Linked DNA regions of Homo sapiens: region 1 is linked to region 2. The links come from fine-mapping of genetic effects on gene expression. A gene starts in region 2. The other region holds a variant in brackets. All regions are shown on one strand. Distances are between the middles of the regions.

The links.
Region 1: its variant is fine-mapped to the expression of TSPAN13 in testis (GTEx, PIP above 0.99).

Annotation. Positions count from the first base shown.
Region 1 is chr7:16,779,322-16,794,539 of GRCh38, reverse strand. It overlaps TSPAN13 (tetraspanin 13), which reads right to left. Exons shown (of 6, transcript NM_014399.4): 6 at 10,004-11,123. The coding sequence ends at 11,049. It overlaps LOC124901593 (a long non-coding RNA gene), which reads right to left and starts at 14,192. Exons shown (of 2, transcript XR_007060228.1): 1 at 12,757-14,192; 2 at 11,994-12,356. It overlaps AGR2 (anterior gradient 2, protein disulphide isomerase family member), which reads left to right. Exons shown (of 8, transcript NM_006408.4): 8 at 1,583-2,729. The coding sequence ends at 1,632. The variant A/C (reference allele first, on the strand shown) is at 10,187.
Region 2 is chr7:16,746,615-16,761,832 of GRCh38, reverse strand. It overlaps TSPAN13 (tetraspanin 13), which reads right to left and starts at 8,078. Exons shown (of 6, transcript NM_014399.4): 1 at 7,803-8,078. The coding sequence starts at 7,865. RefSeq lists a silencer at 5,195-5,489.

The DNA of each region.
Region 1 (15,218 bases), 33 kb before region 2:
ATTAAATTCAGGTTCAGTTTAAAGATCAGTTTCAAAGATGATCCAAATGATTGCCAAGAAAATTACCTTCCCTATGGTTGCCATCAATGGAAGAGAGACAGAGAGAGAGAGAGACACTGACTTAAGGCAGATGAGGTACCTCAATGCAACGCTGTAGCTAGCTGTGACATCTGATTAGTCCTCTGGGAAGAAAAGTGGGTTTTATCCTAGGAACCAACTCTGATCAATTAGTAGTGGCTGCCTAGAACTGCACTGTCCAATATGTTAACCATTTGCCACATGTTGCTACTTAAGTTAAAGTTAGAAATTCATTCCTTCAGTCACACTAGCCATATTCCAAGTGCTCAATGCCCGGACACTGAACATTTCCATCATCACAGAAATTTCTATTGGCCAGTGCTGACTTAGAACGTCATGTTGGGAAGAGAAGTGAGGCCGTGTCTAGGAAGCAGGAGAGATCATCATGGTCCATTAGCAATGTTTCCAGTGTGTGCTGGACCAGGGGAAGCACATTCCAAGTACTGTCAGCCATTACTGAGATAATACCATACATTTTAATAAGACTAAGCTCTTAAAAGGCACGTGTCCTACACAAGTAATATCACAATCCCTTGTAGAACAGGCACTTAATAATTAAGATTTGTAGGAAGAGTGAATAAGCGGCTGTTCAATGCCTATCGAGTGGACATCTTATTTTTAGTAGATCACATACCTCATTTTGATGAATTGCTGTTGAAGAAACAGTGACCCAGAGTTTGGGCTCTGGAACAGTAGCTCCATTACTTGTTAGCTGTGTGACCTTGAGCAAGCTACTCAGCCTCTCTCTGCCTGTTTCATTATGTATATATAAAGTTCTAATCGTGTTTGTATGAGGATTAAAGAATTCATCTGCATAAAGCACTTGGTTTGCTATTATTTATATTTCCCCTACTTCTAAAACAATTTACACACACCTACTAATAGACATTTCTTTTAAACATGATTTAAATTTACTTCTAAATGAGCCAAAATTATCTTCTGCTGCTAGAGCTTATAAAAGGATTCTTTTGGAAGTGAGGGTTGGAGATGAAGGATCTGGGAAGGAATGACTACACTAGAAAACTAGATTGTCACAAAAGCCATTTCATATAATTTTTTTAAATTACAATAAGATTACCAACTATTCACCTCATGATAAAAAGCATCCTATCAGGCTGGGCACAGTGGCTCACGCCTGTAATCCCAGCACTTTGGGAGGCCGAGGTGTGTGGATCACTTGAGCTCAGGAGTTCGAGACCAGCCTGGCCAGCATACCAAAACCCCATCTCTCCCAAAAATACAAAAATTAGCTGGGCATGGTGGAGCACACCTCTAATCCCAGCTACTCAGGAGGCTAAGGCTGAAGAATCACTTGAACCCAGGAGGCAGAGGTTGCACTGAGTGGAGATTGCACCACTGCATGCCAGCCTGAGTGGGAGTGAGACCTTGTCTCAAAAAAAAAAGCATCCCATTAAATAATGAATTGAGCATCCAAGTTTGGGGTTTATTATATCGATATAACGCACGATGGTGTCTTGACTCTCCTGCTTTTATCCCCCATTAGTGCTTGACAACATGAAGAAAGCTCTCAAGTTGCTGAAGACTGAATTGTAAAGAAAAAAAATCTCCAAGCCCTTCTGTCTGTCAGGCCTTGAGACTTGAAACCAGAAGAAGTGTGAGAAGACTGGCTAGTGTGGAAGCATAGTGAACACACTGATTAGGTTATGGTTTAATGTTACAACAACTATTTTTTAAGAAAAACAAGTTTTAGAAATTTGGTTTCAAGTGTACATGTGTGAAAACAATATTGTATACTACCATAGTGAGCCATGATTTTCTAAAAAAAAAAATAAATGTTTTGGGGGTGTTCTGTTTTCTCCAACTTGGTCTTTCACAGTGGTTCGTTTACCAAATAGGATTAAACACACACAAAATGCTCAAGGAAGGGACAAGACAAAACCAAAACTAGTTCAAATGATGAAGACCAAAGACCAAGTTATCATCTCACCACACCACAGGTTCTCACTAGATGACTGTAAGTAGACACGAGCTTAATCAACAGAAGTATCAAGCCATGTGCTTTAGCATAAAAGAATATTTAGAAAAACATCCCAAGAAAATCACATCACTACCTAGAGTCAACTCTGGCCAGGAACTCTAAGGTACACACTTTCATTTAGTAATTAAATTTTAGTCAGATTTTGCCCAACCTAATGCTCTCAGGGAAAGCCTCTGGCAAGTAGCTTTCTCCTTCAGAGGTCTAATTTAGTAGAAAGGTCATCCAAAGAACATCTGCACTCCTGAACACACCCTGAAGAAATCCTGGGAATTGACCTTGTAATCGATTTGTCTGTCAAGGTCCTAAAGTACTGGAGTGAAATAAATTCAGCCAACATGTGACTAATTGGAAGAAGAGCAAAGGGTGGTGACGTGTTGATGAGGCAGATGGAGATCAGAGGTTACTAGGGTTTAGGAAACGTGAAAGGCTGTGGCATCAGGGTAGGGGAGCATTCTGCCTAACAGAAATTAGAATTGTGTGTTAATGTCTTCACTCTATACTTAATCTCACATTCATTAATATATGGAATTCCTCTACTGCCCAGCCCCTCCTGATTTCTTTGGCCCCTGGACTATGGTGCTGTATATAATGCTTTGCAGTATCTGTTGCTTGTCTTGATTAACTTTTTTGGATAAAACCTTTTTTGAACAGATCTTTTGGCATTATTAATTTTTCCAGGGATATATTTTCAATCTTTTCTATCTCTCCTAGTGACTACTATCATTAGTAGGTGTTGAGCATATACTGCTGATTTAATGACATACAAATCTTCAGCAAAAATATCACAGGTTAATCAGCTCCCTTCTCACAAGTAGATAACTTACATGTGCTGAAAAAGGTAAAACATTCCATTTAAAAAGATCTCTGAGGGATAACAAGAGGAAAAAGAGGTTTCCCTTCCATAAACAAATATTTTAAATGACAAGTTCTAAGTGATTCAAGTTTCTCCTATAGTATAGCAAAATATTTTTTCATTGGGCGGACGTGAAATAAGGTTAACTTCTTAAAATGTATTGAATGGCAAAATATCTTAACACATACAAATACTTTTTAAATATAAATAAATATTTAGGAAATCAAATGTTACAGCTGTAAGGAAAATAAGTCCCCCTTTTAAAAGCATTGAAGAAACACAAAGCATGAGTCATTAATTGACTTTGTCCCATCAGTCTCCTCCACCACTGAGAATTTATCCTAAGGAAATCATTCAACAGAAACAGTTCTGTCAAGATGCCAATGGTAACATTATTTAAACGTACCACAGAAAAGCAACCTCCCAAAAATATAATGGCCACATGGTATATTAAGACAAAATGCAGTTTTTTAATCCTGTCTAGGTGAGTAGTCATAAAAATTCTTCTCTCCCTCCCCCTCCCCCTCCCCCTCCCCCCCCCCCCCCTCTTTCCACGGTCTCCCTCTCCCTCTCCCTCTATTTCCACGGTCTCCCTCTCATGCCGAGCCGAAGCTGGACTGTGCTGCTGCCATCTCGGCTCACTGCAACCTCCCTGCCTGATTCTCCTGCCTCAGCCTGCCCAGTGCCTGCGATTGCAGGCGGGCGCCGCCAGGCCTGACGGGTTTTCGTATTTTTTTGGTGGAGATGGGGTTTCGCTGTGTTGGCCGGGCTGGTCTCCAGCTCCTAACCGCGAGTGATCCGCCAGCCTCGGCCTCCCGAGGTGCCGGGATTGCAGACGGAGTCTCGTTAACTCAGTGCTCAATGGTGCCCAGGCTGGAGTGCAGTGGTGTGATCTCGGCTACAACCTCCACCTCCCAGCCGCCTGCCTTGGCCCCCCAAAGTGCCGAGATTGCAGCCTCTGCCCGGCCGCTACCCCATCTGTGAAGTGAGGTGCGTCTCTGCCTGGCCGCCCATCGTCTGGGATGTGAGGAGCCCCTCTGCCTGGCTGCCCAGTCTGGAAAGTGAGGAGCGTCTCTGCCCGGCCGCCATCCCATCTAGGAAGTGAGGAGCGTCTCTGCCTGGCCGCCATCCCACCTAGGAAGTGAGGAGCGCCTCTTCCCGGCCACCATCCCATCTAGGAAGTGAGGAGCTTCTCTGCCCGGCTGCCCATCGTCTGAGATGTGGGGAGCGCCTCTGCCCCGCCGCCCCGTCTGGGAGGTGAGGAGCGTCTCTGCCCAGCCGCCCCGTCTGAGAAGTGAGGAGACCCTCCGCCTGGCAACCGCCCCATCTGAGAAGTGAGGAGCCCCTCCGCCCGGCTGCCACACCGTCTGGGAAGTGAGGAGCGTCTCCGCCCGGCAGCCGCCCCGTCCGGGAGGGAGGTGGGGGGTCAGCCCCCCACCCGGCCAGCCACCCCGTCCGGGAGGTGAGGGGCGCCTCTGCCCGGCCGCCCCTACTGGGAAGTGAGGAGCCCCTCTGCCCGGCCAGCCGCCCCGTCCGGAAGGGAGGTGGGGGAGTCAGCCCCCCGCCCGGCCAGCCGCCCCGTCCGGGAGGGAGGTGGGGGGGTCAGCCCCCCGCCCGGCCAGCCGCCCCGTCCTGGAGGGAGGTGGGGGGGTCAGCCCCCTGCCCGGCCAGCCGCCCCATCCGGGAGGTGAGGGGCGCCTCGGCCCGGCAGCCCCTACTGGGAAGTGAGGAGCCCCTCTGCCCGGCCAGCCGCCCCGTCCGGGAGGGAGGTGGGGGGGTCAGCCCCCCGCCCGGCCAGCGGCTCCGTCCGGGAGGGAGGTGGGGGGGGTCAGCCCCCCGCCAGGCGAGACGCCCCATCCGGGAGGGAGGTGGGGGGTCAGCCCCCTGCCCGGCTAGCTGCTCCGCCGGGAGGGAGGTGGGGGGCTCAGCCCCCTGCCCGGCCAGCCGCCCCATCCGGGAGGTGAGGGGCGCCTCTGCCCGGCCGCCCCTACTGGGAAGTGAGGAGCCCCTCTGCCCGGCCACCACCCCGTCTGGGAGGTGTACCCAACAGCTCATTGAGAACGGGCCATGATGACAATGGCGGTTTTGTGGAATAGAAAAGGGGGAAAGGTGGGGAAAAGATTGAGAAATCGGATGGTTGCTGTGTCTGTGTAGAAAGAAGTAGACATGGGAGACTTTTCATTTTGTTCTGTACTAAGAAAAATTCTTCTGCCTTGGGATCCTGTTGATCTATGACCTTACCCCCAACCCTGTGCTCTCTGAAACATGTGCTGTGTCCACTCAGGGTTAAATGGATTAAGGGCGGTGCAAGATGTGCTTTGTTAAACAGATGCTTGAAGGCAGCATGCTCGTTAAGAGTCATCACCATTCCCTAATCTCAAGTACCCAGGGACACACACACTCTGCCTAGGAAAACCAGAGACCTTTGTTCACTTGTTTATCTGCTGACCTTCCCTCCACTATTGTCCTATGACCCTGCCAAATCCCCCTCTGCGAGAAACACCCAAGAATGATCAATAAAAAAAAATAAATTAAAAAAAAAAAAAGACAAAATGCACTATGTTGTCATCCATAAAAATAATAAACATAATGGCAAAACAGAAAAGGCCTAAGTAAAAAAGAATTTAAGACCTTCTATGCTATAATTGCAACTACAGGAAATGTGTACATACAAGGTTAAAAACAGAATTGAGGTCAATCGTGGTGGCTCATGCCTGTAATCCCAGCACTTTGGGAGGCGTATCGCTTGAGCCCAGAAGTCCGAGACCAGCCTGGCCAACATGGAGAAACCCCGACTCTACTTGAAATACAAAAAAATTAGCCGGGCACAGTGGCCCATGCCTGTAATCCCAGCTACTCGGGAGGCTGGGGCATGAGAAACCAAGGGAGGCGGAAGTTGCAGTGAGCTGAGACCATACCACTGCAATCCACCCTGGGTGACAAAGAGAGGCTCTGTCTCCAAAAAAAAAAAAAAATAGAAGATACAAACATGGTTGTTCTAAACTCATTGAAATATTAGCAATGTCTGTTCTTTCTACCAAATCCCTCTTCTGTCATCTCACAATCTATCATTTGCATTTAAATAAATTTCAAGTGAAAGTATATCTTGACTACTTCTCTGACTACAGAGAAGTAGAAGAGTACTAGAAGACTGAAGAGTGCTATTTCAAACAGCCAAATAAAAATGTTAATAACATAGTGGGAATATAAAATGGTGCAGCCATTTTTGTTTTGTGGAAAACAATATGGTGGTCTCTCAAAAAATTAAATACAGAACTACCATCCAACCCAGTAATTCCACTCTTGGGTATATGCTTATGAACTAAAAGCAGGGAACAGATATTTATACACCCACGCTCATAGCATTATCCACAATAGCTAAAAGGTGGAAGCAACTCAAGTGTCCATCAATGGATGAATGAACAAACAAAATGTGACATATACATACAATGAAATATTATCCAATCTTGAAGAAAATTCATGGCTGGGCGCAGTGGCTCACGCCTGTAATCCCAGCATTTTGGGAGGTGGAGGTGGGAGAACTGCTTGAGCCCGGGAGTTCAAGACCAGCCTGTCCAACATACCAAGACCCCATGTCAATGGAAAAAAAGAAGAAGAAAGTTCTGGCATATGTAACAACGTGGATGAACCTTGAGGACATTATGCTCAGTAAATAAGCCAGTCACGAAAGGACAGCTACTATACAATTTCACCCATATGGGGTACCCAGAATCGTTTTCATATAGAAAGTGGAGTGCAGGTTGCCAGGGGAAGAGGGGAATGAGGAGTTATTGCTTAATGGGTACAGAAGATTAAACGTTATGGAAATGCATGGTGGTGATGGTTGCATAACAATATGAATGTACTTACTGCCACTGAACTACAAGCTTATGAATGGTTAAAATGATAGCTTTTATGCTATATGTATTTACCACAATAACAAAAATTTCAGTTTTATCTGAGATTCAATAGCTTAGGGAGAAAAAAACAGGAATTAACTGTTAAAAAAATGTAGCTAACATAAATCATCTGTAAACGTCATTTACACAGACGGTCAACATGCCTAATTAAACCATTTTTACCAATTTCGGAACAACAGTCTTCTTCAAGTGATCTTCCATGACTGTCTAAATCTGTTTTCTTTCTTTCTTGAATTCAGCAATTCTAAGTAGTCTACTGAGAACCCTCTAACTAGCAATCACTGATAAGAATACCAGTCAGGAGAAAAATCATTAAAAGCTCTAAGGCAAGAATAGAACTTCCTTCAGTTCAAGGACCTTGACTTCAAAGTCCAAGTCAAGTCAGCTTAACCTATTAAAAGGCTACTTGTCAAGTTATGACTCCCTGATCTATGAAAAGCAAGATCCTAAAAGTAGGCAAAGTGGTTTCACCCCCCAAGTGATGTCAAAGTCCATTCTTTGACATATATTTTAACTCACAGGCCTCAAATCCTCATTTGAAAATGAATTCCAAAAGCTGGTTTTCCTAAGGAGAGTGATGAGAATTGGCCTGCCACATGGCAGAGTTTGATTTTCCCCTTTCTCATATTTTCAAGAGGTATTTCAATGACTACAATTGCTCAGTTATGACATTTAAGAAAAACATCCACATGACAAGCCCCGTTCCCTTCTCTCCCTCTCCTCTTCTCGTGGAGTGGAGGTGTTGGGGAAAGGGTGGATTGCACTCTTAAATTTATTTAGAACACATTCACTAACACATATTGTAATTTCATTTGGCACAGAAAGCCTGGTCTAAAAATTATTTTAGTCCAAAACGTACCAAATACAGAACAAAACTTTACACCAATCCCTTCACTTATCCAGAACCCTGGAAAAGCTGGTTTTTAACTTTATTGTCATCTCTAATAAAACAATTCACACATGAATGATCATGTCTGTACAACCACAGTGACTAAAAGTGTTTTTCTCCTATGAAATACTATGGAAAAATTTGATTCTAACTTTTTTAGTACCAGCTAAAAATTGAAACAGTTTGACGTATTTAGTGTATTTGCAAAATAATGAATAAACTTTAACAGAGTTAAACAAATATTTAGAAAAATTGTAGGAGGAGGTTTTGGCTCAAGGAAACGAAGAACTAAAAGCCACACTTCTGGTTTCCTTTCCTTCTATGAAAGGTTCCATTCAGCAGCATGTAACTTAGGTTGAACATGCGAAACTGGTTTTCATACCAAACACATTGTTGCTTAGATAACAGAGTATCTGAGATGAATTTAAGCTACAACAAGCTCAGATTTTAGAAATTATAGCTGAACTCTTTCTTCCTTTGTATTAGTATTATATTCTCTATATAAAATTTAACCCTTAACATCAAGGCTGACCGGGCAAATGTGCCAAAAAACATTCCTATAAATGGAATGTGCAAATAGAGAAGAGATTTTTTTAAGCAGCACAGTTCCTTTTTAAAGAAATGCTAGGTTTGGGAAGAAAGGACATCTAGGGTCTACCCTGATCTGAAACTCATCCTCCTCTGACACTACGTGTTTATGGCAGCATTTCTGTGCCCTTGGGCAGTGGCCCTCTCTAATCCTGGGATCAGGATGACCTTTGCAGGATCATAGCAGGGCCATCTGGGATTCAGGACTGACTTATTCAGAGGGTTTTCCACTAAATATGCACCCCGACACAAAGATCCCAGGAAGCATCACAGAAGGTGTTAGGTAATCTATCACCTTCAGATCTGCCAGAGAAAACAGAAAGCCCAGACTCATTTGACAAGGACAACCTTGGTGCTTGAAAATGTGTATTTCTTGAGTGGCTAACTGTCATTACCCACTCTTATAATCCCATAGTTTAGTAGTCCTAAATATTCATACTTCCCAGACCCTGGCTTTCTTTTTCATTAACTTATTTTACTAAAATCTTAACATCTTAGATATCTTTACATTTTGTTTTATTTAATATTTAGATATACATGTTTTTCTTAGCCATAATGATTTAAAATCCTAATTTAATGAACTCAATTTCATGAAGCCTTGAGCACGATTAAATGCATTTTGTCAGCACCAGGCTACTTTCAAAAATGTGTTTAGACTTCTCACCCTGACAGCTGTTCTCTTTGCACTTTGCTTTTTAAGTAACACACTTGAGGAAGGCTGACATCAGTCAATCTATATTTGAACAGAAGAAGAGACCTTCCTTTGTTAGAATTTCCAGGATGCATCATTTAACTTCAGCATGAAGCATACTGTGTTGACCCAAATAAGGGCACTGCAATTAGAGCACAAACCAAGGTAAGGGCTGATTCTCTATGGAATAGCCTTTCCACATATAATCATTTGTACCAAGGAAAGTATTACATTAGGAGATTCCAGGGCCTTATAATAATTTCAAAATGTAACAAAACAAACATGGAAAATGCCAAATGCCTTAAAGGAAGACAGAATTTTAAAACTTCCCACCTCGATGGCAGGTTAATAGGTGCAGCAAACCCCCATGGCACATGTGTACCTGTGTAACAACAACCTGCACATTCTGCATTTGTATCACAGAACTTAAAGTATAATAATAAAAAATAATAATAAAATCTCCCTTCATATGTCACTTATAATCCCATCTTATGGTATAAGTGGGGACACTGTTAGGGCTACCCCAGAGCTCATAGGACATTGTGAAAATGGCACAATTCTGTTTCCTTGGAAAATTAGCTAGTGTTGCAAAGTCACGGAAGTGACAAACCTACAAAATGCTCTAAAACTCTACAGATCAACCATTTACCCTCTCTCGGTCTAAAAACCTAGTAAGACAATAAAATACCACATGCTACCTAGAATGTAAAACAAGAAATTAATAATTTTTCGTAATGGGAAAGAACGTATATATTTTTCCCAAATAAATATTAATGGCTTCTCTTTTTAGAAAAACTTTTTCTCACCATGGAGATAATATTAGCCACTGAAACATTTCAAGAAAGGATTTGAGGATGACTACCAATAGACATTAATGCTGGAAATTTATTTCCACAGCTTGATTATACACTAAAATAGCAATACCCAGCTCTAAGTCCAACAGAGAGAAGCTAAAGCAGAAAGAAAAGAATTCCACCTCACTTAATTCATCGATCAATTCTTCCATTACTTTCTTTTAATTCAAACATGCATACACAAAGAAAGGTTTCTGTCCTTTAATTTTTTAACAGAATATACAGAGCCACACAATACGATTTCAATTTCAAATTATGGGAGATCATATTCAAATATGCTTAGGTTTGACAAGTTGCTGTTACAATACTGAGAA[A/C]TTTCATGAAAACGGTATTTAACAATTTTTAAGATAATCAAATATCTTTTTGCTACGTGGGCCAACGCATTAATACTAACTTGTTTAAAAATGCAGTCTTTTAGACTTCAAATTATTATAAAACAATATCAAGATCATATAGATATACTTCCTGATTACTCAAAACTCGTTCCATTCTGATGGAGGCTGAAGGTAAATGTTATTATACATTAGAACATTTCATGAAACCACTTCTCCTTTGCACTTACCTGTAAAAGTCAAAAATTAAACCACAATTTCCTAAGACATAACTATTTCTAGAATACATTGGTGTAATCATAAAAGACTACAAGTAAATTATCATTTTTATACTAACACTTTTTACCACAACAATCTTTCCTAAAAAGACCAAAAAAAATTGGGAATTTGGATTTCCCTTAACATAACAGGATCTCATACTTTCTGATTTTAATAAATTTCCACTCTTTTTCCAGTAGGAACTATCTACACAGCACAGTGCTACATATAATTATACCAGTGAGATGTACGTTCAGATTCACCATATAACCAACACAGTGGTACCATACAAAGTTTTTCTGCAGGTAAAAATGCTAAGAAAGGCCACAGTGGACAGTGCCCGACAATGAATACAGTAAATTCCAGGTGCCACCGAGCTTCAGAGACCACAAGTTTCAAATATTTTTCAGCAACGGAAAGAAAAAAACATGTAGAGAAACATAGAGTAAAAATATATAATTCCACTATCAATAAGGTACTTTTCCAGATAGTGTTTCCTTCCTTAAACTGGCAAATGGAGCTTAACAGAAAATTACAGAAAGTGAACAAGATCATAATACGAAAGGAAATCTTCCTTGTTTTCTCATCAAAGGAATGCACTAGGATTCGCGCGGGGGTCTTTCTGGTTCCTGTATCTGTAGGTCAGCCAAACACCCAGGATCTGGAATGGGGAAAAAAAAATAAAGTAAAGAAAAAGAAAGTAACATTTATGTATATTTATTCAGTTGATCAATAAAATAACTTTGGACCCTCTCAATCGCTTTGCATCTTTTGTTCAACGGGGAGAGATTTTTTTTCTTTTTGAAATGAAGTAAACCAAATGACGGGCGCTGAGAAAAAATTAAAACGAACACTGTGGTAAACTGAATGACTGGCCCTGAAGGATGTCCATGTCCTAACCCCTACGACCTGCAAATATGTTACCTTACACAGTAACAGGGACTTTGCGGGTGTGGTTAAGGGTCTCAAGATAAAGAGATTATTACCCAGGTGGGCTCAATGATATAATCACAGGGGGACACATATGACGGAGGCAGGAAGGACAGAGTCAGAAACATGGAGAGAAGACACCGTGATGGCAGAAGTAAAGGGAAATAGAAAGAGAAGCTGCAACTCTCCTAGCTTTGAAGATGTAAAAGGAGGGCTGGTGAGCCTGGCCTCCAGAAGGTACCTTTATTTTAAACTTTTGATCTCCAAAACTGTAAGACAATAAGTTTGTGTTGTGTTAAGCAACTATGTGTGTGGTAACCTGTTACAGCAGAAATATGGAAAACTAATACAAAGTCAAAGTAGTCTAAATAGCTAAAATAGCATATATTTTGATAATTCAGGAATAAACTAAGTTCAGTAAAATTTAAGTAACAGCAAAAAATCTTAAAATGAATAAATTTTCCAACACAGAAATTTAAAATGTTATAATTCCTACCTCTCTTGGTAGGAAGAGATGAAGCTGTTACTGTGCCATTTCCCGCACCAAGTTCGCTAAATTGTTAGCCAGTATAGTTTTTTAAATTAAGAAATGTGTGCTCTGTTTCTGTTTCAAAGTTGGTTTATTTTAAATAAATGAAAATTGTAACTCTTTAGGCTAAAAAAGATACAAAATTTTAATAGAATAAAATGAGTTTTAAACTGTATCTCCCACTTTATACGTGTGCCAACTTTTAACCTAAATTTTGTTTATGTGACTTTGTAGCCACCATTAGCCCTTTTAAACTACTTCTAGAGAGTTAGGTAAGTCCCAGATTCTCTCCACTGACCACAATAAGAATCCACAAATTACTGTAAGATTCATAACTGGCAGTGTTTATAGCTGGTGGACTGAGGTCTGCAGGTTGAATCAAGGAAAGGTAAGCCTGATTTGAAGATGTGGAAAGTCATCTGTTTTGGAATCCATCTAATGGGGAAAAAGAAATGTATTTAACAAACATAACAAAGAGTTCTTTATGAAAGGTACCATTCTACAAACTACAAATTCATATAATCCCCCCAATAGCTTTCACAAAATAGATACTATCAATATCGTCATTTTACCAGTGAGGAAACTGAGGCAACAAGAGGTTAAACAAAATAATCACACAGGTCCTCAGTGGTAGAGCCCATGTTCAAACCTGGAGCCCATAAACTACCCCACTTTTGTGGTTTTATTCGGTAATCTGACATGTCACTGGCTGTTCTCAGCCACACTAGCTGTTACAACACGGAAATACTTACATATCTGTAGTTAAACAACTATTTCTTTGAGTCCCCCCGCCCCACCTCAACCTGCCCAAATATCACTTGCCAAAGCTCCCCACCTTGGAAATTTTCAGCACAGGGAGCTTCTGGTCAGAATTTTTGAGGATGTTAACATTTTGACTATCACCCCTGGATATATGCTGAGAGGGTAAATCACAGTCCTTGGGGGAAGAAAGCAATCAAACAAACTAAATACTCATAATCCGGAGCCACATTTTACCAGAATTGTATTCCTCCAACTTGGCTATAAGCGCCAAAAGGGGAAAATCTCTCCCCTTCCTTGCCCGACTGTTCAGAGAGGGATAGAAAGGAAGGCTACATCCAAAATGCAAAAAGATCAAAACTGGATAATTATTGAACTTCAAGCTTACAAAAGTGCTCATGATTAAGAGGGCACTTTTCAAAGGTAACTTTGATTAGATGTCATCAACTCTGCGGTCTCTAGAACCTACACTCAGTGTGCAGTAGGTCACCAAAATATATTGCTCATAACATGAAAATGTATGTAGAAAAATAAAGTACATGTAGAATATGCAATAAGCTGGTACTCATTTTACTAAATATAGAACGGGCAGAAGGAAATATGCCACAATATAAATGATTGTTTCTGAGTAGGTAATTTTAGTAGCTACGTCTAATTTTTCATCTTCATAATTTTTTGTAGTTTCTCAAGTTACTACAAAGAACATATATTAATCATAGCTTTTTTCAGATTCTAAATCAATGTTTCTCTCATGGTTTAGGTTTGTTTAAAGGTATAATAAATAGTTCAAATCAAATCTTTCTATTTCACCTATGAGAAGAAGTTGTCAGCTAAGTAACTGCATCCCTTCAAATTCTGAGAATCTGTGATTCTGTGAATATTGAGCAAAATATAAACTTAAAAAGTGAGAGCCTACCACTATCACTATCTAAAAAACCAGGTTGCATAAGTTATAAAAATCTCTAGCCAGATTTCCAAAGGAGACAGTATGTAAGATATAAAGCAGGATTCCATGAAAGAACACTTTAGAAATCTAAGACTCATGAGTTCTATTTTTAAAGAACTCCTACTTAAAAAATAGCATAACTGAAGGCAGTGTGATCTGATGACAAGAAAACTGGGCTGCTCAAAAGAACTAAATTCTCAAAATAAATTCCAGATATAAAAAAGAAGCCACGTGGCAAAATTCTGATAACTGCTGACTCTAGCTGATGTGTAGAGAGAAATTACTCCAGTTTTTCTCTATCTGTATTTTTAAGTTTTCATAACAAAAATCTATGGTTTTTAAACAAAAGAAGAGAGAAATGCACAGAATTCTTGTCAAGCTGTATATCATTTTTCTAGAATTAATGTCACAACCAACTCACAAGTCAGATAGCTCTTTTCTGAGAAACAGTGAAATGAAAAAATGGTCAGACTAAAGAGGGAAGTCAGAAGGAACTTTAAAAAAATGAATATTGGGCCAGGTGCAATGACTCACACCTGTAACCCCAGCACTTTGTGAGGTTGAGGTTGGCAGATCACTTGAGGCCAGGGGTTCCAGACCAGCCTGGCCAACATGGTGAAACCCTGTCTCTACTAAAAATACAAAAATTAGCTGGGTGTAGTGGTGCATGCCTGTAACCCCAGCTACTCGGGAGGCTGAGGTGGGAGAATCGCTTGAACCCAAGAGGTGGAGCTTGCAGTAAGCCGAGATTGCACCACTACACTCCAGCCTAAGCAACAGAGCAAGACTCTGTCTCAAAATAAATAAATAAAATAAATAAATAAAAATAAAAAATGAATACTAGGCCAGGCACGGTGGCTCATGCCTGTAATCCCAGCACTTTGGGAGGCCGAGGTGGGCAGATCACGAGGTCAGGAGATCCAGACCGTCCTGGCTAACATGGTGAAACCCCGTCTCTACTAAAAATACAAAAAATTAGCTGGGCGTGGTGGCGGGCGCCTGTAGTCCCAGCTACTCAGGAGGCTGAGACAGGAGAATAGCGTGAACCCGGGAGGCGGAGCTTGCAGTGAGCCAAGATTGTGCCACTGCACTCCAGCCTGGGTGACAGAGCAAGACTCCATCTCAAAAAAAAAAAAAGAATATTAATCTTGGTCTTTTTTTTTCCTATGCTGTTAATGACAGCCAAATGTACATATTTCATTCTTGATGAGAAAAAAAGAAACTGAACTTGAATAAAATATATGATAAATACACATACATAAATATTGTACTATATATTAATTGCATATTATACACAATACATTATACACATATAGACATTATGCATAGGTTTTAGAAGGCTAGGAACAGGGGAATGAAAAATGGTGTAGGAAGGCAATTTTTCAAGATATATATAAAAAGATATATAATCTTTTTATATATGTATGTCTGTGTATTATAGACATTAACATACATATTAAACAATGTGAATGTCCTACCTTTTCCAAATTAAATTTAAAATTATAATTCATCACACAACTGTAGAAATAGAAGAGACCCTAGAGATAATTCAATCTAATCTCACTCATTAGTTCATTAAATTTTACATAAGA
Region 2 (15,218 bases):
GCAGGTTCAGTGGCTCTCATCTGTAATCTCAGTACTCTGGGAAGCCAATGCAAGAGGAATGCTTGAAGCCAAGAGTTCAAGACCAACCTGGGCAACACAGCAAGACCCCTGTCTCTACAAAAAAAAAAAAAAAAAAAAAAAATTAATTAGCTGGGTAGGGTGGAGTATGCTTGTAGTTCTAGCTACTCAGAAGGAGAGAAGGTGAGAGGATCGCTTGGGCCCAGGGGTTCAAGGCTGCAGTAAGCTATCATCACACACTGCACTCCAGCCTTAGTGACAGAGTGAGACCCTGCCCCTAAAAAAAAGAAAACAAAGCCCCAGACTATCTTCCTCAATATGCCTCAACATTCATAATGAGGAATTACACGTGAACACTGAACTCTCTTCTGAACTTCTGCTTAATGTGGAAAACTGAAGAGCAATTCAGAAAAGATCAAGCACATGTTTCTACGATGCCAAACAGCTGGATGGAAATATGAAAACTCTATAAATAATCTACATTTTGCTAAATAGCCAGACATTGAGTGTTGAAGCTAAAACCTCAGTTCTTTTATTGCTTTATGATCATTCTTCAAATGACACAGAAGGCCTGAAGTGCTCTTGCGAATATTTTTCTTCATTATGGCTCTCCGTGATGCCACTGCTTTTATACTTACTAGGCAAAAAAATACAAAGTATATGGAAATTATATAAAGGTGATTGAAAGTAAGGGACCTCCACTTGTCATTTTCCAAGGGTAACCAGTTTGAGGTGACATCCACAGCTGCCAACAAAGTTCCAACCCCACTCTACCACTTCCTTCTTTGGAGCATTTCTGGGAGACAAGAAATGAAGTATGGGCAGAAGAACCCTGTACTGATTCCTGCATTCAATTAACTAAATGCCAACCACATGCCAGGGCTGTGCCGGGCACACAGGAAAGCCAGAATGACTGCGACATTGCCTTTATTGTTCAGAGGATTATAAGAAAAATAAAAGGGTAACTGCTCTTTTCAACGACTTCTTCACTGACAAATTCGAGAACCAACTCTCGGTCCCCATCTCCTTGAAATGGTTTGCACTTGACTTCTGAGACACCAACCTCTCTGCAATTTTCCTCCTACCTGACTGGCCATTCCTTTTCAGGCTCCCTTGCTGAATGTTCCTCATCTCCTGAATCTCTTAATGTTTGAAATGCACTACTTCAATCCATGGACCACTGCCCTTCTCCATCTACCCTCACTAACTTGTTGGCAAGTCCTCTCCCCTGAATAACAGTGTGGTTACTGTAAGTGCTACCTGACATTTCCACTTGGGTTTCTTTAGCATCACGTCCAATACTGAATCCTCTCATTCATCCCAAAGTCTGCTCCACCTGCCATCTTCTCCATCCTAGTTAACGGCAAATCTATCCTGCCAATTCCTTGAGCCTGAGCCACAAATCATAGTAATCTGTGACTTGTCCCTTTCAGTAAATCAGGTCGCCCTACCTCCAAAACACTCTCAGAATCTATTTCTTTTAATTCTGTTGCCACCATACTAATCCAAGCCTCCATCATCTCATGTGCAAATTATAGCAATAGCCTTGTAACTAGTCTCAATGCTCCCACCTGTGCCATCTATAATATATTCTTAACTCAAAAGCCATATAGCCTTTTACATAAAAATCAGACTATATCAGTCCTCAAACCTAAACACACCATTGGCTCCCCATTTCACTTGGTATAAAAGCTCATGGCCCTATAGTGCTCTCCTGGGTCCACCCCTGACTTCTCTGACCTCATTTCCTGCATTGTACTGCTTGCTTGCTCTGTCCCACTCATATTTGACTCATCTGTCCCTTGCATAAACCAGCAATACTCCTCCTGGCCAGGCACAGTTGCTCACACCTGTAATCCAAGCAATTTGGGAGGCCAAGGTGGGAGGACTGCTTGAGGCCAGGTATTCAAGGCTAGCCCAGACAACACAGACCCCGTCTCTACAAAATATTTTTTAAAATTAGCTGGGTATGGTGGTACATGCCTGTAGTCCCAGCTACTAGGTAGGCTGATGTGGGAGGATCACTTGAGCCCAGGAGACAGCTCTCTGGCAGTGAGCTGAGATCACGCCACTGCGTGACAGAGCAATACCCTATATCAAAAAAAAAAAAAAAAAGAAAGAAAGAAAAGAAAAAAAAGCAGAAATACTCTTTCATCAGGGTCTTTTCAAAGACGATTCCCTCTACCTGAAACACTTTTCTTAGATAACTGTTCTTCATCTCCTTTAGGCCTTTTGATACAGTTTGGATATTTGCCTCCTCCAAATCTCATGTTGAAATGTAATCCCCAATGTTGGAGGTGGGGCCTGGAGGGAGGTGATTCGTAGGGGTGGATCCCCCATGAATGGTTTGGCACCATCCCCTCAGTGATAAGTGAGTTCTCCCTCTGAGTTCACGTGAGATCTGGTTGTTTAAAAGCGTTTGGCACCTCCCCCTCACTCTCCCCATGTGACACAGGGACTTCCTTTCCCCTTCTGCCATGATTGTAAGCTTCCTGGGGCCCTCACCAGAAGTAGATGCCAGCACTATGCTTCCTGCAGAACCATGAGCCAATTAAACCTCTTTTCTTTATCCAGTCTCAGGTATTTCTTTATAGCAATGCAAGAACAGTCTAACACCTTTCGTACACTGTTTTCTTTCCATGCAGGCCAAGCATGACCACCATATGTGAAGCTGTGTACCCATCCTCCCACATCCGCTCCACTGCCCCACCTATCTTTCCTTTTACTCCGCTTTATTTTTCTCCATAAAACTTGTTTACCTTCTAATACGATATATAATTTACTTACTTATTTATCATCTGTCCACCCCCATAAATATAAACTCCATGAAGGCAAGCCATTGGGATTTTGTTCACTGCTATTGATGCTCAATTAATATTCATTATTAGAATAAAAAACAGAAAATAACTTGGGCACATCTCAAACTTACATTAGACTCACAAATAACCCCAAACAGTTACAATTATAATACAATTTTACAGGAAGTAGATTCATTCAAGAGAAACGGTAGAGGAAACCCACAGACACGTTTGAAAGGTTGGCCAATTATGTAAAAAAAAAAAAGGGTATTACAAGAAATATTCGATTCTACAGTGGATAAATAAAAGTAATTCCTACTTAATATTACTACTTTTTAACCTAATGCCAACTTTCATGCTTTAAAATATTTAGCTGTGCTTCTGCACTTAACCTTGATCATTGCAGACTAAAAGTAACAAAATATTGTTTTATACGAGTTTTCTTTATGCAAGTTTTACCTGTGAAGAATAGCTGGAAAGAAGAAGCCAAGTCTATAAATTCAGCAAAATTCAACTTTTTCCACCTGAAGCTGTAACAACTTAATTTTATTTCTATTATACATCTAAAGCATTTATATACTATCTGATTTTATCCTTACACAGCTTCATGAGGGGACGACTGAAAAATATCATCACCAATTTATATATGAAGAAACTGAAACTCAAAGTAAGCTGTTTGTCTAGTAACAGAGTTGGAAAAGTTTCAGTTTTCTTCATAAATCCAGTGATCTTTCTTCCCATAATTTGTATGGACATATGTTTTTTATCTAACAGATTAAAAACAGAATTTTCTTCCCATAAATTGTATGGTCGTATTTTTTTATCTAACAGATATGGCACACTTTATCTACTATAAAATGCATCCCAGGCCGGGAGCATTTTATAGTAGATAAAGTGCTCATGCTTGTAATCCCAGCACTTTGGGAGACCGAGGCGGGTGGATCGCCTGAGGTCAGGAGTTCAAGACCAGCCTGGCCAACACGGCGAAACCCCGTCTCTACTAAAAATACAAAAAATAAGCTGGACATGGTGGCGGGCACCTGTAATCCCAACTACTCAGGAGGCTGAGGCAGGAGAATCGCTTGAACCCAGGAGGCGGAGGTTGCAGTGAGCCAAGATCGCGCCATTGCACTCCAGCCTGGGCAACGAGAGTGAAACTCCATCTCAAAAATACAAATAGAAACAATAAAATGCATCCCAACTTCAGAGGTGATAAAAATATAAATTAAGGTGTTTATGAAGTAATTCAGTATAATTTTTATGCTGCATGAGAATTTTTCTCAAAACAACCAAAAGTATAAGGAAAAAGAATCACGAAAAAGAGAAAGAAACAAACATGGAAAGATGTTATAAGAATGAACACACACAGGAGAAACAAAACTGCAACTTCTGAAATTTCCCTCCTGATTTTAAAACTGGCAGGGCAACTCTTAAAAAGTCCCAGTAAATATATGTTTGGTCATATTTTTCAGTTTGGTTCTATTTAACAAAGTCAGCTACCTTTTTTTTGGTTGTTTGTTTTTAATAGAGCTTTCTTCTCTGGTTAAGAAGCACAAGGAGACACATTATAAAGCTTCAAAATATTACGTATTTTAATACAAATTTTATTTCATATTTTCTAAAATTTCCCACAAATCACTAAGCATAATTTTCAAAAGTTTTTTTCACTACTTGTCAAAATCTTTTCAGCCTAAAATATTCCTATAAACTATTAAAAATAAGTCATTTTCCCAAATCATTTTCATTTTTATGTATATCCTAAATGGTATCAAAAAGACCCACACACTATTTCTACATTTCCTTGATTCAATCACACCTCCTTTATTCCCCCAACTTCTCTAACCCACAAATATCTGCCACAGTCCTAAATTTTATGGTACCTAAAGTCAGTATATTCCTTATACGCCATTTAATTTTCCCATTCCATGTCTCTCATCTAGATCCTGTCTTCACAATGCATTTGCCTTTATAGGTATTTATTATTTCCCACAGTTCTCAAAAGAGTGCACACAGTAGACAAAAGTTTATTGACTGAATACAATTCCTGAAAACATATGTATAAAAGGTAGTAAATAAAAAAGAGCCTTCATAAAAGCACATTGATTTTTACGCCCTGTTTGGTTTGCTGCTGTATTTCCAAACTGAGAACAGAGCCTGGCACACAGTAGGCACTCAATAATTGTTGAATGAAGAAACTGAAAGTTTCTTTAAATGCAGGAAGCTCTGAGGCAAGTCATTCTCTTAGAATACTGTGAAGGTGAATTCAGGAATGTAGCTTCCCCCTTTTCTTCTATATTTACAAACTGTTAACACATACTACACTAATTTAAGCTTGTCCAGTACTGGCGATCCTATTAACTAAAATAATCAAGCCATAAACAACAAGAAAAATCAACTGTTAACATTTTGCCTAGTGATCAAATTTCCTTGTTTGGGACTTCCAACTTGTTTTTAGTGACATGCTTTCTGAGCTGATCATGAATGTGGCACGAATCTCAGGCTCATCAGCAAGCCACCAGAGCATGTGGACAGTTCAGCTGATACAGTCCTAAGTTCCTCAGTAAAATGCTTCAACACAGCAATGATGATGTTTCAGGCATCTGCCGTTCCCATATGCAATCCTGGTTTAACCAACACTTTTAGAAATGACCTCAAATGTAATCCTGTAGCGTTGAGCACATTTTAGAGGCAGTGACCAGGGTGGGATTAGAACCTACAAAGAATGTTTCTATTCATGACTTATAGAGAAATGTCTCCCAAGTCTTCATGCTCAATCCCATCCCCAACTGCCTCACATTTTTTTCATCTTAAAATGTTGAGAAAGAGATCAGGGGAGAAATAGAAGCTAAATAATGGCCATGGCACATTTTCAGCATCTATCTAAGACTTGATCCAACTTTTACCTGTCACTTGCCTCCACTTTAAACTGCTGCAGTTATTTAAGCCTATTTACAATGTAAAAGAAGCAAGCAGCCACTAATTCATTTTAAGAAATGTCCCTTTGTCTAAAAAGTCTATGATTTAAAAGGGCTAGCCATTTTTATTGTCCCGTGAATTTCCAATTCATTAAGTTTTACTGCATAGCTATTAAAATCAATAGAACACACACTTTGAAGGTCAATAATTTAGAATAGATATTAAATAGTCTTAATATGTCCCTTTAGAATCACCTTTCTTTCGCCTCACTTTCCTGATATACTCTAAATACAACTAAAAATGATGTCTAGAAAGCAAGGAACTTCATTTTAAAATAACTTGCCTTTTTAAAAAAGATTATACATTGATATAGACCCTTCAGTGAAGTAAGTATGCAAAGTAGACATTCCACTCTGTGTAAGCAGGCACTGTAAGACTAAGTGTCTGGCAAACAGATGACTAAATCATTGGCAGAAAAAAAACAGAACTCAGGTCACAAAATAAGGAATTTAAAGTTCCAAGCAGGCCACTCACACTGATTTAAAAAAAAAAAAAAAAACCCTAGAGAACTGGTCAGCATTTACTTAATAAACAGCCAGGGTGATAAGCATACCTCAGGGTGATACAGATGAATTTTGATCTGAAACTTGACATGTATCTCCAAGGAACTGTATCACCAGGTGTTCTAAAATTTTTTTCCCAAGTCTACTATTAATGACCATGTTGACCAGATTCTTACTAACTAGCCATAAAAGCGTACTCAATGCCTGTTTCTGTCTTGCCTTCAAAGCTTGCAGTCATGTTCACATACAAAGGAACAGTAAAGGTAAAATGACCCAACCTCCTTCTCCTGTTGGTGACCACAAGGCAGCCTCTCTATTCCAAGGAGGTAATCTAAGCTTGCACAGATGGCCTAGCTCTCTGCTAATGCAGGGGTGCTGGGTTTGTTTTCAGGGTGGGTGCTGCAAAGCGCCAGGTATATTTATAGAAGGGAGCAAGACTACTATGGAGGGATGATGACAGAAGAGGAAGTTTCTTCCGCCCGGTAGAGACAGCCTGTGGAAAGATCTGGATTCCACAGCCTAGGTTCCACTCCTGACTCGTCAACTACCAGCTATGTAAACTTACTAAAACCTTTTTGGTCTGTTACCTTATGTATAAAATGCAGATAATGCCCCATTCCCTCAGAAGGTTGTCAGAATGATGAACGAGCATTGTGTATGTAAAACCTGGGACGTGATAGGCATTCAATAAATGTCGATCTGTCCTGCCCATCCTCCTGTTCACCCAGAATTGCGCCTCAAAAAATCACAAAGAGAGCCTGCAGCGTTAAAACTAAGAGGCCCAAGCTGGTTGGCAGGGAAAGAAACGACTTGGGTGGGGGCTCGCTTATTTCCTGGAGGACTTGGTTTAAAATGGAGTTAGGATATTGATCATGGACAAGACACACAGAAAAAGCACCAAGTACTAGCAAAACTGACAACAACAAAAACAAAAAGACATCCCTTTACTGTGAGCACGAAACAAACTTCGGAAGCAGCGGACATCCTGTGAACCTACTCAGTGGCCTCAATTAAAATCCCGAGGGTACCAAGAGCTAACCCAGAGGCACACCAGCCATATGCCGCCTCGTCAGTTTCAGGCCACGCCATTCCGCAAAACTGTCCGCAAGCCCTGACGGCTCTCGCGCCTCCACGCCTGGCCCAGATGCGTCTGGATGTCAGGAGCGAGCGGCAGAAGGGTACGGGGTGGGAAAGCGGAGAGGTCCGGTTGAATGTTTGAAAAACAAGGCGGTGGGTGAGGGGGCGGGGTGGAGCAATGTGGCAGAGACGCGGCCAGCGAGCCTGAGAGACCGCGGCTTCACAATGAACGAAAGGAAGAGACTGCGACAAGCGCCGGCGCCCGGTCCCCGGCGGGGACGGATGGTGAGGCCGGGGGCGCGCAGACGTGGGAAGCCGGGAAGGGGGCGCGGGATGCAACGAGTGAGTCGCTGACCAGGCAGGGAAGCCAAAGAGCTCCCAAGCAGGTGCAAAGCCCCCAAGCGAGCAGGAACGGACTGGGGATACTCACGGTGTAAAGCAGGTTGAGGGCGCACAGGCAGTTCTTGGAACACGCGAAGCCCCCGCAAACCATCTTGGAACCTGTGGTTGCCGGCAGCTGCACGTAAATTCGACTCCGGCGGAGGTTCCCTGACAGCTGCTTTGTCCTTGCCTTTGGGGCCTGGCCCAGGCGGGGCAGCAACGCAGACGTGGGTGGGGGGCCGGGGCCTGGGGCTGCAGTGCGCGGCGCGCGCGCGGCGGCGGCTCGGACCCGCTTTGGAACCTGCGGCCGCCGCAGCTGAGCCGGAGCAGGAGCCCGAGCCCCGCCCAGCCCCTTCGTCTCGCCCCGCGCGCTGATTGGCCGCTGGCAGGGAACAAAGGTAGAAATATGCAAATAAATGCGCTCCGCCGACCGGGATCCGGGAGGGGCGGAGCGGTCCCGGGGCGAGGGGGAGAGGGCCAAGGCCGTGTGGGAGGGAGCCCCAGGCCAGAGCGGCGGCCTTGGTGTAGTTTCCCCAGGAGCAGGTGAGGAGGGAGGGCGGGGCTCGGAGGAGATCCACGCTGGCAAGGAGAAATATGACAGCACCTCTGGATTCTTGGCCCTGGCAGATGACGTGGCACCATTTTGAATGAGATTTCAAAACTAAGCACCTGGCCTTGTTTGAGGGAAGGAAGGCAGGAAGCAAGTAATGAATGAAAACATGTGAAAGATTTAAAAGAGAACGAAGTAGAGGCAAATGAAAGGGAGAAAATAAGTGAAACAATAAAAAATAAAATAAAATCCCTGCTTCTCTCAGAAAATAAGATATGTGCCCTATAATTGTGACCTGGACAGGTCAGACTTATCCTACAAAGATTTGCAAAATACTAATAAACTTTATGAATACATGCATGCAAAGGAAAATCAAGAGCGGGAGAAGGTGGGGATGGTTAATAGGTCCAAAAAAATAGAAAGAATGAATAAGACCTACTATTTGATAGCACAATAAAGTGACAATCGTTAATAAGAACTTAATTGTGTATTTTAAAATAACTTAAAGAATGTAATTGGATTGTTTGTAACTCAAAGGATAAATGTTTCAGAGGATGGATACCCTATTCTCCGTGATGTGCTTATTTCACATTGCATGCCTGTATCAAAACATCTCATGTACCCCGTAAATATATACATCTGCTACGTGTCAACAAAAGTTTTTTAAAAAATTTTAAAAAGAAAATCAAGAGAGATTATTTTTGTGTTCTGGTCGTGAATTTCAATAAACTTATTTTTTCACAAAAATAACTGAAAATCTTCAAATAACTCAGACTTCACCTCAATTAATTCATTATCAGTTTACTGCTTCTCTACTATAGAAATGCATCTTGTATCCTTAATTCCTCACCTATAAATTGAGATTTTAGAAGTATGTCAAGCACTTTTTGCATAGTGGCTGGCACAGGGGAAGGCCTCAATAAATGTCAGCTAGTATTCATAGATCTGACATTTTGTAAAGGCCTACTGTGTTCCAGGCACTAAGCGAAGGCAATAAAGGTTTATTTACTTCATAGTAGTTTCTACCAAAGAAAAAGGTTTTATAAAGAGATTTGCAAGTTTACAATACTATATCTAACCTAAAGGTTCATACGGAGTAAATTATGTAATTGCAAATGCTAAATTGTATTAAATTAAATTAAACATTGCAGCTGATTAAAATAATTCGTCTTCTTAGAATTCTCTGCTCCCTCTTCCAGCCTCTCCTTCCCTCCCCTGACCCCACCATACCAACAAGACCTCATTAATTTGTTAGGCTTTCTATTCCACATTAACCTTTTATATACAGCTAGAAATATTTCAAAAACTAACCTGGAAAATGATCCTCAAACACAAACAATGCTTTGATGATGCTCAACTTTCCTTTTTAATAGCCAGAGGTTTACAAAAGATGAGGCATTGGCAGGGAAATCTATTCATTCTCTTCCCATTCCTGGGTGTCACCAACATTAGTACCACTTCAACTATCACTCAACCAACTATTGCAACTCTCTCTTTGGCTTCTGCATAATATCTTCACTATCTCCCTATAGGCTGAATCACTTTGTTTTCCCAGAGAAGTACCACCTATCAGTCAGGGTCCCAGCAAAAAGGAGATGACTCGTTCAAATAGCATAACTGAGAAGAATTTCAAAAAGGGACTATTTTCAAAAGTGTGGACAAAGTTAAAGGAAACCGGCTGGGTGCGGTGGCTCACACCTGTAATCCCAGCACTTTGGGAGGCCGAGGGTAGTGGATCACCTGAGGTCAGGAGTTTGAGACCAGACTGACCAACATGGTGAAACCCCGTCTCTACTAAAACTACAAAAATTAGCCAGGCGTGGTAGCGGGCACCTGTAATCCCAGCTACTTGGGAGGCTGAGGCAGGAGAATCACTTGAACCCAGGAGGTGGAGGTTGCAGTGAGCCAAGATCGCGCCACTGCTCTCCAGCCTGGGTGACAGAGTGAAATTCTGTCTCAAAAAGAAAAGGAAACCAACAAAGCATGATGAGGCAGCTCAGAGATAGTAAGAGCAGGAAGTTCTAATTACCCCTAAGACTAAGGGGGTGATTTAAGGGAACAGTTACAGAAGCCAGGCAAGAGCTATAGTTGTAGGAGAGTTGTCTGATAGGAGATACGGCTTTTGATAGAGGAAACAAAACAATGTCTGAAAATAGGAAAACAAATGGACATGTTGCAATTTCTCCTGATTTGGATATAGAAATTTTCAAAAGACCATTTGTTCCCACCCTAATAAGAACAAGCAGTCTGGACAACATAGTGAGACCCCATCTCTACTAAAAATTGAAAATATTAGCTGGGTGTGGTGGTGCATACCTGTAATCCCAGCTATCCCAGCTACTCAGGAGCCTGAGGGGGAAGGATTGCTGGAGCCCAGGAGATCAAGGCTGCAGTCAGCTATGATGGCGCCACAGCACTCCAGCCTGGGTGCAGACCAAGACCCTGTCTCAAAGTAAGTAAAAACAAGCTAGATAAGCTACCAAATCATACTTACAACAAAAAACTATCGAAGAACTGAGGGGCTAAAGGCACTAGAGGAACTAAAATCCAAGAAGTGATGAGACATTATTAGAGGGGGAAAAAAACTCATAGTCACTTTCATCTCTTATAGACTGGCTGTGGAAGGGAGAAACTACCTTTGAGAGGGATAAGGAGAAACTAAATGACTATTTAACCATCTTCTACTGCCCCTACCTGGACTATGTGACAGTTTATAATCCAGAGCCCCAGCTACAGAATGACTGCAACTATTTGCCAGCTCTAACCCATGGGCTTTCTTTTAAAACAAGACATATAAGCTACAAAGGCCGTGGTCAGGCAAGATTGCTGCATTAGTTCGTTTTCATGCTGCTGATAAAGACGTACCTGAAACTGGGCAGAAAAAGAGGTTTAATTGGACTTATATTTCCACATGGCTGGGGAGGCCTCAGAATCATGGTGGGAGGCGAAAGGCACTTCTTACATAGTGGTGGCAAGAGAAAAATGAGGAAGAAGTAAAAGCAGAAACCCTTGATAAACTCATCAGATGTCATGAGACTTATTCACTATCACGAGAATAGCATGGGAAAGACCGGCCCCCATGATTCAATTACCTACCCTGGGTACCTCCCAAAACATCTGGCAATTCTGGAAGATACAATTCAAGCTGAGATTTGGGTGAGGACACAGCCAAACCATGTCAAGTGCTAATAGATATTCTTCATCTCCAACTATTTCAAGGTGTATAAGCCTTCCCCAAATGCAAGATAGTGGCTAAAAGCTGGGGTAAAGTGAGGAAAAATAAGAAAAATTCCAGCAAAGCAATCTGGTTCTTTAACTCCAGGACTAACGTAGCAGCAGAAAAGAAAACTCTCTCTATGGTACACTGAAAGAGCCCTCCAATGGCTGGAATAGGATTCCACACAGGATAGCAAGAGATCTCACAAGATACAGAAAGCCAAGGATGTGAGTGGAGAGCAAAGACTATTCCCCAGCAAACAAAAAGGTAGCAGGCTGTAAAGCACAAAGATCTCCCAAGGCTCAGATTGCTGGTGGCTAGGCTGCAAAGCACGAAGAAATCTCTATGCAGACCTCCTTTCTGTAAGAGGAAAGTCTTGATCATGCCTTCAAGAATATTTGAAGCCAATAATGAACTGAATCTATTAAACCTATAACAAACCCTAATTCAGCTTAACTATAGTTTAGATGGACTTAGGCAACCACACCAGCAGCCTGACAGAATAAGGGATGTGCCATTTTCTGGGAGTAAATATTATTTACTTCAGGCTCTATTTTTCTTCAAGTTTGCAAGGCCACATTTTGGAAGAGCATATGTGATGAGACGTACTGTGGTGTCTTTAGAAAATAAAATCTGCCATAGGCAATGTCCTTCTTTCATATTATGCCTCCATATTGTTCCTTTGATGAAAAACTGCCTTTTTTTAAGTGAAAAAAAGAATGGGACACTGGACTACAGTTCTTCTCACAGAGTTATACTGGAGACTAAGCTATGAGATTACATATATTTCTGAGTGGAAGGAGAGCTTTTATTTTATTTTATTTTATTTTTAGATGGAGTTTCACTCTTGTTGCCCAAGCTGGAGTGCAACGGCACTATCTTGGCTCACAGCAACCTCCACCTCCCGGGTTCAAGCAATTCTCCTGCCTCAGCCTCCCAAGTAGCTGGGATTACAGGTGCGTGCCACCAAACCCTGCTAATTTTTTGTATTTTTAGTAGAGACGGGGTTTCACCATGTTAGCCAGGCTGGTCTGGAACTCCTGACCTCAGGTGATCCACCCACCTCAGCCTCCCAAAGTGCTGGGATTATAGGCGTGAGACGCCGGGCCTGGCCAAGGTTTTATTTTTATACAATAAAGTTGTCTTTATCCACAAAATCAATAGAATGGATAATTGAATTGTATTTCTTAAAAACTGGCCTTCTAAACTGTTTTAATTTAAGATCTTTAAGATGTAGAGTACTCCTCCAATGATTAGAAGAGACACAAGATGGAAATAAAGGTTTTATTACTTACTGGGTACCTGCATGCCTGGAGGCCACACACAGAGATATCCAGGAGTCTGCGCAGGGGGAGAGAGGGGGGTCTGTGGGCAAGTGCCCTTATTGGTTCCGGGGGTTTCCCGTGGGGAGTTTTAATTAGTGAGTTCATAACAAGCAGGCATGACTGCCAGGAGGTCACACAGTGACTGACAGGTGGTCATTGTGGCATGTCTGCACAGTCCATGCAGGTAGTGAGGCTCAGCGGGCCAGTCAGGCAGGCTGCACTGATTAATAGCCGTCCCACTGGGAGGTGGTCACCAGGAGGAAGCTGTATAAGGTAGATGTGTGGATTGGCCACATTGAGGAACTGGGAAGGTGTAGAACTGGAAACTGAGCCCTGCTTCTGATATGAGTCCAATTTCAAAATGTATGCCGTGGCAGCATAAAATTATAAGAATATACTACAGCCAGGCACGGTGGCTCACGCCTGTAATCCCAGCACTTTGGGAGGCCAAGGCAGGTGGATCAAGAGGTCAAGAGATCAAGACCATCCTGGCCAACATGGTGAAACCCCGTCTCTACTAAAAATACAAAAAATTAGCCGGGCGTGGTGGTGGGCGCCTGTAGTCCCACCTACTCAGGAGGCTGGGGCAGGAGAATCACTTGAACCTGGGAGGTGGAGGTTGCAGTGAGCCAAGATTGCGCCACTGCACTCCAACCTGGTGACAGAGTGAGACTCTGTCTAAAAAAACAAACAAACAGCAAAATATATATATATATATGTATATATACTACATAAGCAAACTATTTTTAACAGTTTTCAATTAGGAATAACAAAGACAAACATCAATTTTTCATATACTTTCTTAGTCTCTGAATAAATCTTTAATGTGAGATGACCTTCTAACAATTTAGGAGATCGGTACGCTTCCTTCCTCCTCCTTCTCCTCCTCTTCCTCCTCTTTTCCCACTCTTCCTCCTTTCCCCCTTCTCCTCCCCTTCCTCCCCTCCTCCTCTTCTTCCTCCTCCTTCTCCTTCTTCTTCCTGCTCGTTTAATATGTTTTTGAGGCCGGGCACAGTGATTCACGCCTGTAATCACAGCACTTTGGGACGCCGAGGTGGGTGGATCACCTGAGGTCAGGAGTTCCAGACCAGCCTGGCCAACATGGTGAAACCCCGTCTCTACTAAGAATACAAAAAATTAACAGGGTGTGGTGGTGGGCACCTGTAATCCCAGCTACTTGGGAGGCTGAGGCAGGAGAATCACTTGAACCCGGGAGGTGGAGGTTGCAGTGAGCCAAGATAGTGCCACTGTAACCCAGCCTGGGCGACAAGAGCAAAACTCTTCTCAAAAAAAAAAAAGTATATATATATATATATATATATATATATACTTTTTAAAAATGTATATACGTATATATACATGTTTTTGAGTCAGGGCAATAACAGAATTCTTGTGCATTAGTCTAGATCTTCTGAGAAGCAGATGCCAAAACTGGGTTAGATGTGCAAGCAATTAATTAGGAGAAATGTCCATGAGGGGAAATAGGGAGGGAACTCTTGGAGGCTGGGAGAGCTAAAAGACCACAGTGCAGGTTTGACATCTGTGAAGGAGAGAGAGAATAAGGCAAGAGAAGAAAGGAAGGGGAGAGAGAGGAGGGAAGGAAGGGTCTATGACTGCAGTGCAGTTTTAAGGAGATTTGGCAAGGCCAACAGGGAGTCCAAGCCAGATGTCAGAGAAATCCCACATGCTCTCCTGGAATGACCCTGCCTTAGTGTTCCTGCCACGCTGTCACAGGCTGGAAATATCAGCACAAATGCTGTGATGGATTTCAGAGTATAACATGGGACTGGCTTCATTTATGCTCCCCACAATAGATCTGAGAAGTACATTTTCTTGAAAAATAATTCTGATTACATTTTTTCCCTGTATTCTACAAAGATTTCTCTAGTCACATTTCAAACCATCTTTCAGTTTTGCAGTCTTCATCATTTTATCAGGGAAGAAAATTCTCTCACTTCACTGGGTAATCAATTTCAGATTTTAATAATTCTTTTCTTTTCTTTATTCTTTTTTTTTTGTGTTGCGGGGGACAGGGTCTCGCCCTGTCGCTCAGGCTAGAATGCAGTGGTGCGATCTCGGCTCACTGCAACTTCCGTCTCCCAGGTTCAAGCAATCCTCCTGCCTAGTTGGGATTACAGGCACGTGCCACCATGCCCAGCTAATTTTTGTATTTTTAGTAGAGACAGGATTTCACCACTTTGGCCGGGCTGGTCTTGAACTCCTGACCTCAGGTGATTGGCCCGCCTCAGCCTCCCAAAGTGCTGGGATTATAGGCATGAGCCATCGCACCTGGCCAGATTTTTAAAATTCTTATTGTAAAACTCTTTTCATGGTTAAGGTTTAGTTGACATTAACTCAAATTTATGAAATTCT